3 separate regions of the Homo sapiens genome follow, and regions 1 and 3 are each linked to region 2. Evidence: fine-mapped expression QTL. A gene starts in region 2. Each other region holds a variant in brackets. All regions are shown on one strand. Distances are from middle to middle.

Region 1 (2,765 bases), 69 kb after region 2:
GAGCAGGTAATGTTTGAGAGCAATCTTAAATGATTAATTGAAGTTTTCCAGGTGGGCAAGGAAGGGGAACGCATTCCAGGCTAAGAAGACAACATGAGCAATAAGCTTTTGTTCCTTAAAGGGATTAATCAAAACTTTCTATTATTTTATTTCTAGGCACAAAACCGGTGCTTAATAGAGGTTTTACTGGCTTAATTTATTTAGTCATTCTCTTTGTTCCATGTGGCAGATATGCCATTTGCCACTCTAATATTGTCCTATCCTTTCTCCTAGTAAGAAAACTCTAATTTAGTGGAGGCAGCAATGGGCCCAGCTAAAAAGATGATGTTTCCAAGCCTCCCTTGCAGCTTGAAGATGTAGACAGAAATTGTTGGGGAGTCTTCTAGGAAAGCACATAAGAGAAGGACAGACAGCTGATCTATCCCTTTTTGCCCTTCGCCCTCATGTTCTGATTCCTGCTTAGAATCACCTGTGTCTTAGACTGTGGGCCATCCGTGAGAATGGAAACCACATGATTGTGACAGTAAATGGAAAAGCAGAAGGAAGCTGGGTCCGTGATGACAATGTGAGGTCACATACCAATCCTGAATGCCTATTTTAAGATTTTTTTAATGTAAAAAATAAATTTCTCTCTTCTTTAGGCCACTGCTATTTCTATTCTCTGCTACTAGCCGCAGAATGCAATTCCTAACTGATATACACCACATTTACCCTATGCTCCAGAAATCTACATGCAGATGACTCGGGGCAACTACAAATACTTATGGCTAGAAATTACTATTTGGAAAATGCATAGAAATAACTGAGAGAATTTTCCTGCATGGACCTCATTTCCAAGGTGCATCTCAAAGACAGTCTTATACCAGCCATGCAGCGTGGAGGAATTCTAGAAGCCTTTCAGGAAGAGAAAGTGGCTGCTATTGCTGCTGATACTGCTGCAGTTTAGTGGAAACTAAAAGGCTGGAATGATGACCTTTCAAGAAGAACAAATGTTATTAAATAATGGATTTTTGTCCCACCTCCTGCAACAGTCAAGAGCAAAAGGATGAAAAGGGAATCCTATTCTTCTATTAATAACTCCTCAGTCAGTCTCATGCTGACAAAGCAGAAAGCAGCTTTAAAATTAGCAATTTTGCCTGCAAATTAGCCCCTTGCAAAGCCA[T/C]AAAAAGAGAAAAGGAAATAAGAAGAATTCTTTTAATGGAGTCAAGGATGGAAAAACCAAGAGTGATAGAGCATAAATGCCCAGAAAACATACTTATTTTAAGGACGATAATACCCAGGTTTTAAAGAGCTGCTTATAGCTGTGTATGAGGAAAGTGTTAATTTATAGCCCTTGGACCAGTGGCTTTTCTTAATGGCTCCTTGGAGCGAATCTATCAGATAACTTGGAAGAGCACAAGGTTTAGGTTGACGTTAATAAATATTACTCCATTCACCCCTATCTGAGAAATTCCTATTCCATTTCAGAAAGGCAATGCAGTAAATGAAAAGAGATTAAACTTTACAGGCAGACAGACAGGTTTGAACCCTGGCTCTGCTCCTTCACTAGCCCTGGGAAAGTCTGGGCACCACTCTGGGCCTCTATTTTGTCTTCTATCAAAACAGAGGGTAATTATGCTTCAGTGTGTTAGTATCATTAAATTTAGTACCATGCATAGAACTTGGTCCCTAGTAGGTTCTTAGTGAATGTTAGTCCTTTTCTACTCTCCTTTCCTCATCTGATAGCTAGGAACACTAAACTTTCTTGCAAACCTATGCAAAGCAATTATATTTATCTCTGTGAAATTCTCCCCATAAGAAGATGAATCCCTACAGAGAAGATGAGCACATTTCCATAATCTACAATTGGTCTCAGGTATTAGGCTCCTGTTTACAGTTTTGTATAAATGATAAGTCAATATTCAATAGTGGGAATAATCTGAAAAAATAAACTGATACTCCCTTAACAATAAAAAGGAGGAGCTCTCTATTTCCAGCAAGGAACATACACAAGAGCAGGAATTTTAAATTTATACAGTTTGCTTCATTTGCAGCTTTGGTGGTTTCCACATTCATAGTCATTTAATACTCCTTACGTTCCAAGAGGAAGTGAGGAACTTGGGGATCTGTTGAAGGCTTGGCGAGTCTCAGTCATTCCTTTCTTAGTTCAAGAGGGTATTTTATACCTGAAACATACATTTTCCTTTCCAGGTCTAAAAAATTGCAAGATATAAAGAAAGCAGTTAAAGCCATAATGCACATGGAGTACAAACACTGTTTGAAGATGAGTAAATCATTCAGAAATACCTGAACAGCATTTAAAAAATACTTTTTCTTATTGATGGCTGTAGATCACAAGATTGGATACCTTTATAGAAATCTAACTGTGCTAGAAACACTAGGCAGAGTTACCTCTCCAAATGTAGTAATACAGCCCCAGAATAATTCTCCTTCAAGTTTTCAGATCTCAAGTTCATAGGATCTGGTTTAGGTGGGTCCTTAGAAATGATTTAAATCCCCTAATAACATAACCATATAATAGTTTTTCCACTTGTGTTTGCACATCTCCAGCAATAGAGAAGAGCATTCTTCCCAGGGCAGTTGAGTTGAAATTAAGTCAATACATATGCATCGAGCTCCTCTAATATGATAGTCAATTGTTTGTACAGAGGTATGTATTAGCTTCCTGTGGCTGCCATAACAGAGTACCACAAACCAGGTGGCTTAAAACAACAGAAATTTATTGTCTCACTGTTCTAGAGGCTAGAAGTTTGAAATAATGGTGT
Region 2 (2,765 bases):
TTTTAAGTTTAAATTTCTGGGTGAAAACAAAACAATAAAACTTCATTATCATCCAAGCAACATAGATATTTTTCAAATATGGACTTACATCTTTGGCTTCTCCACGAGGTATTGAAAGTGTTTACTTCCAATGATTTTCACCATGATCTCAGGCATTGCATCTGATCCACGGGGAGTCTTCCAGGCTGAAGACATGATTCCTTTCAAAATCCCTTCAGATCCCTAGGGGTGAAAATAAGTAAATTGTTCCTCTTGATTTTCCATTAGGGAACTGCATCATCCTTGCCAATAACAACAAGCAATAATAATAGCAGGACAAAGTGTTTCACCTATATTACCTCACTTAACACTCCTAACAAAGGCATGAGAAAGATATTTTTAACTACTATTATCATTTTTGTTTTACTGTTGAGGAAACAAGCAAAATGTAGCTATATGACTTACTCACATCACATCACATCACCAGTAATTAGCCGACTTGGGAATCTCACCTAAGAGGTCTGTACAGCAGATCTACTGAATCATTAGGTGACTCTACCTTCCTGTACTACAAGACATAGGATGGAATTCCAGTGAGGTCAGAGCAGAAACAAGGGCATTAGTGGGACATATGAAGAATCCATATTCAGTTCTGATGTTTAGTTTCCCCATTTATGAGATCAGGGTAATTCTAGGTCTGTTCTCAGGGACTTGAGGGTGAATCCAAGGAGATAATGCATCTGAAGGGAGACTGTACACAAGACAGACAGACTTTTGTTGTTATCACTGATCTCTTTCTACAACAATACAATGAATCTGAAATTGAACTCCTGCACAAGGTGTTTAAACAGAGTGATGCCAAGGGAAAATCAGAAGTTCAGTAAATCTGGCCACAGCTGAACACTCCCTTTTAGAACCACCCAGAGGCTGAAAGGCCTTTAGAAATCATTCTACTCCAAAGGCTCCTTCACAGATTGGAAAACTAAGGCCCAGAGAGGGTGTGTTATTTGACAAGGGTCACAGAGGAATGAAGGACGGGACTGTTTCCAGTACTTGGGTCTGATGTCTAGGCCAGGGTTCTTCCCAAAAGTCCAATACTAAAGACCTGTGCTAGGGCAGCCCCTCATCCCGGGGACCTGCAGCCTCTTTGCACCTGTCTGGAATCTTCCAGACCCGGAACTCGTGATCCTCAAATCCCCTCCCTGCCCAGCAGCTGCGTGTCGGCCCTGATTGCCCGGAGAGAACAGAGTCGGGGGGCTTACCGCTAGGGCAGCGTCCCCACCCTGGCAGCTCAGAGGTGCGCGGTCCGTGCTTCTCCCCAGGAAGCTGACACTCTCAGACCCGGGGACGGGACGGGGCGTGGGGACCGAGCCCAGGAATCCGGCCAATCACAGGGCCCGCATCGCGGGCGGCGCCTGTTCCGCCCTGGTCGCTAAGGACGCTGAAGGCTGTTTCTGGGCGGGGACCAGGTTTTTCTCCACTGCCTAGGCAATGGACCCAGGCTCTGGCTGCCAACGGGTGAAGAGCCTAGGTGTTTTTGATCTGTGCCTTCTCTGTTCCTCAGAGATATGCGGGCGTCCTTCTAGAAGCCCATCTCGCTCACCTGTGTGGTCACCCTTGTCCCGCCCTTCCTCCGAAGGCTTCATTTCCCTTTGTGAGTTTGCACATAGTTGAGATTCCAACACAGTAGGTTCAAATCCAGACGTCTCCACTGTATGGCTTGAGTAAATCCCTTCTTTTCCCTGAGATTGTTTCCTCATCTGTGAAACGGGGCAAAATAATAACACTGTCCTAACTGCGATTTGGTGACTAAATTAAATAAGAATATCGGCCGGGCTCAGTGGTTCACCCCTGTAATCCCAGCACTTTGTTAGGCCGAGGTGGGCAGATCACGAGGTCAGGAGATTGAGACCATCCTGGCTAACATGGTGAAACCCCGTCTCTACTAAAAATACAAAAAATTAGCCGGTCGTGGTGGTGCGCGCCTGTAATCCCAGCTACTCAGGAGGCTGAGGCAGGAGAATTGCTTGAACTTGGGAGGTGGACCTTGCAGTGAGCCAGGATGGTACTACTGCACTCCAGCCTGGGCAACAGAGCGAGACTCCATATCAAACAAACAAAGAAACAAAAAAACCAGAATATTATAGATTGATAATAATAACGTTGAGTACTGTCTCTATGCCAGATCCCTATGACAAGCTGGATAACTCTCACCTCACAAGTTAATAGTTATAAACAAAATAGTTTTACTTTATTTTAAAGAGAAAAGAAACAAGTTGGGGTATTGATAAACTACTCCAAATCCTGCAAAAGCAAGTACAGAGCTAAGATTAGAATATAGATCTGCATATCCTACATTTCCAGACAGTTGTTATTATGCTAAAAGAAACTTCAGCTGATGCAGGCAAAGACACTTTAGATTGATTCCCAAACGGTATTGTTATTTGCATCAACATAGGCAGCAGCAGCTCCAGCATCTGTTCCCCTGTCTCCTAACCTCTAGCTGTACTGTGCTTTACAGGTGAATATATCACCCACTGGCACATGCAGCCAGAGGTGGACAGCACACTCAGCTCCCCTCCAGGGGCTCACTCTCTAGAGGGTGAGACACACAGCCACATTCTATGATATAGAAAGTGTTAAGGGAGCAGAGAAGCGGGGACAGCTCCCTTCTCACTCCTCCCTCCTAGCCTTCACGTTGCTTCCAGATCAGTCTTCCCAAGGCCCAACTCTGACAAGCCCCCTCCTCTACTCAAATGTCTGAAAGATCTCATCAGCCACAGCAG
Region 3 (2,765 bases), 79 kb before region 2:
ACAGTATCCAGTACTAGTAATCACTCAATAATGTGAAATTTTACTATAGGATAATTATAATAATTATGTCATCAACATTATTTTAAAAATATATAAACAGTATATATGTAATTGCTTATTAAAATAGATAGCATTTAGTTTATATTTTAATTAAAAATTAAAAGTTATGTTAAAAAATACATCTAGGAATCACAGTAGTATTTTCTATCTTCTAAGCTTTACCATTGATAGAAGATGCCTAGAGTCAAACAAAAAGTCCACTGAATGAAATTTGTATCTGTCTAATTTACTCTGTCATTAGGGGATGCCCAGAACAGCTGCATAAAATAGCCCTTACAATCCATCTTAGTGTTGGAAAGCCTGTCTTTTCTAACCAGAACCAAAATAAAAAAATAATAAGAATCCTTTTTTTTTTTTTTTTTTTGAGATGGAGTTTTGCTCTTGTTGCCCAGGCTGGAGTGCAGTGGCATGATCCCGGTTCACTGCAACCTCCACTTCCTGGGTTCAAGTGATTTTCCTGCCTCAGCCTCCCAAGTAGCTGGGACTACAGGTGCCTGCCACCACAGCCGGCTCATTTTTGTATTTTTAGTAGAAACGGGGTTTCACCATGTTGGCCAGGCTGGTCTCGAACTCCTGACCTCAGGTGATCCACCTGCCTTGGCCTCCCAAAGTGCTGGGATTACAGGCGTGAGCCACTGCACCCCACCATAAGAACATTTTCAACATCAACTTCATTGTACAGTATATAAAGAACTTTCAATCTTTTATCTCATTTGATCCGTTCTCAAATCTGGGAAGTATGTTTTATTATTATCAGTTTTACTTTGTAGATGAGGAAACAGGTGAAGAGAATGTAAGTGACTGGCTTTTACGGATCAACAATGGGTGGAGTCTGGATTTGAATCTAAATCTTCTGATTAAAAAAAAAAATCAAGCAAAATCGTGTGCTCTTTCTAGTATGTCATGGGACTGGGTGTAGTGGGGATTCATGGAGAGCTGGGCTTGAATTATGGCTCACCATCCTACTGGCTATTATTTTATCACTTTGAGCTTGGCTTTCTTCTCTGTAAATAAGGATACTAATCCCTTCAGCATGTTGTTGATGTGAGAATTTAGTGATGTAGTATATGTAAAGTCCGGGCTCATGCAGAGGAATTTCTTTCAGGCTCTCATTGCATTCTCCCTCCTTGAACTCTAAAACACTTTCTATTTAGCTTTCACTTCACTGGGAAAATTCCAAATGCAACATTCACCCAGACATTTATCTTAACCACTGTTTTTTTTTCTTTAGAAAACATGACTAGTTATTCATAATCATTCCTTATCCCTTCTCCTCAAGGCTATTTTGTTGACAACCCCCATTAGAGAATAAGCACAGTAGGTTCCCAGAAGCACTGATGTGATGATGGATGGCCTGTCCTCATCCTGGATGGAGAACATGCTGGCCTACATATTTCTTTGCACATAATAAAGAATAGTGATTCATCCATGGGCAAAGCAGATATCATCTGCTCAGCATCTAGAATGGGGCTATGGTGGTCTGCTAAGTACTGTGGGTTAATAAACCACCAAAGTGACCTCAGTTAATCCTCTTTCCTCATTAAAGACAGTTGTAGATTTTCCCAGATCTGGCTGACACATTCCTTGGCTGTTGAGGAACTAATGAATTTCATGGAAACAGAGAAAACAGGCATAAATAGTGAAGAGGC[C/A]ATGAGAAAGGCATTTCAAATCTGTCGGAATCTGCCTCCAAAGTCAACAAACTCCGTTTCTCCTCAGAACGGTTCAGAAGCATGAGAAATCTCCCAGTCTTTGGAGAGTGTCTTAGCAACTAAGTTTATGATCCATTATCCATCACAAGTAAGCATTTGTTTCTTTAGCAATGTCATTTTTTTAAAAAATGTTTTGTTATTGCTTGTAACCTCATCACCACTCTCATAGCCCTGTTGTGAATACCCAGACTCAGGGTTATTTCAATAATCTTTTCATCTCCTTCTCTCCAGTACCTTCCCTAAGTCATCCATCTCAGCTTTCATTATGCCTTCCTCCGCATGTACATTTGGATACTGGGTAAAGAATGAAGCCTCATCCTATCCCTTAGGGTTCATAATAGGTTCTCAACTTTACTGTATGTCCAACATCCACCTCCAGCAGTCCTGTCTTGGTACTCGCTTCTCCATCATACTCATTCTCACCTTCTAACTTTTGCAGGAGATGACTTCAAACTCGGGATGACCTGTCCAACTGTCCAAATTCTACCTGAAGTCTCAGCTCAAGTTCTCTCTTTCTTGGAGTCCTCTCTTGGTCCCGGACCTCGCATTAGATGGTCAGCCTCATTTCATACCTTCACTTTCCTTTTGACTCTTGAACTCTTATTTGTGCCTTCATTTGTCTCAAACTCTTGGGCTCAAGTGATCTTCCCACCTCAGCCTCCCAAAGTGCTGGGATTACAGGCATGAGCCACCATGCCCAGCCATGTAACTTCATTTGTAATACTTAATGCTGTGTTTTAATTTTGTTTGTTTACTGGCACTGAACTATTGTTAGTCTCTGTGTCTTACCTAAAGGTAAGCTCCTTGAGGCCAGAGACTATGTCTCATCCTTTCTGGTTTTCCTCTTGGTTCAGCCTCTAACACAGTTCTAGGCTCATAACGTATTTTTAATAAATAACTTTATAATTCAACCAGATGAATCTTTCAATTAAAATTTTCAGGTTTTTTTTTCTCTTTGGTATAATTATTAAGAGTCCCTGGATTTTGTATGGCAAT

Alleles and levels. Positions count from the first base shown, and alleles are read on the strand shown. Sizes are in standard deviations (SD) of each study's normalised expression. Not every link is listed here.
As copies of C replace A in region 3, the expression in aorta of the gene that starts at base 1,322 in region 2 goes down (small effect, 0.39 SD a copy in GTEx).

The links. PIP is the estimated chance that this variant, and not a neighbour inherited with it, causes the effect.
Region 1: its variant is fine-mapped to the expression of C1orf87 in whole blood (INTERVAL, PIP above 0.99). The same link has a PIP of 0.9 or more in NK cells, blood mononuclear cells and platelets.
Region 3: its variant is fine-mapped to the expression of C1orf87 in aorta (GTEx, PIP above 0.99).

Annotation. Positions count from the first base shown.
Region 1 is chr1:60,140,961-60,143,725 of GRCh38, forward strand. All of the region lies in intron 1 of LINC02778 (long intergenic non-protein coding RNA 2778), which reads left to right. Among named protein-coding and RNA genes, the nearest start is that of LINC02778, 28 kb to the left of the region's middle. The variant T/C (reference allele first, on the strand shown) is at 1,163.
Region 2 is chr1:60,072,449-60,075,213 of GRCh38, forward strand. C1orf87 (chromosome 1 open reading frame 87) reads right to left here and starts at 1,322. Exons shown (of 12, transcript NM_152377.3): 1 at 1,242-1,322; 2 at 89-222. The coding sequence starts at 195.
Region 3 is chr1:59,993,352-59,996,116 of GRCh38, forward strand. The region is part of intron 11 of C1orf87 (chromosome 1 open reading frame 87); the gene reads right to left. Among named protein-coding and RNA genes, the nearest start is that of CYP2J2, 68 kb to the left of the region's middle. The variant C/A (reference allele first, on the strand shown) is at 1,710.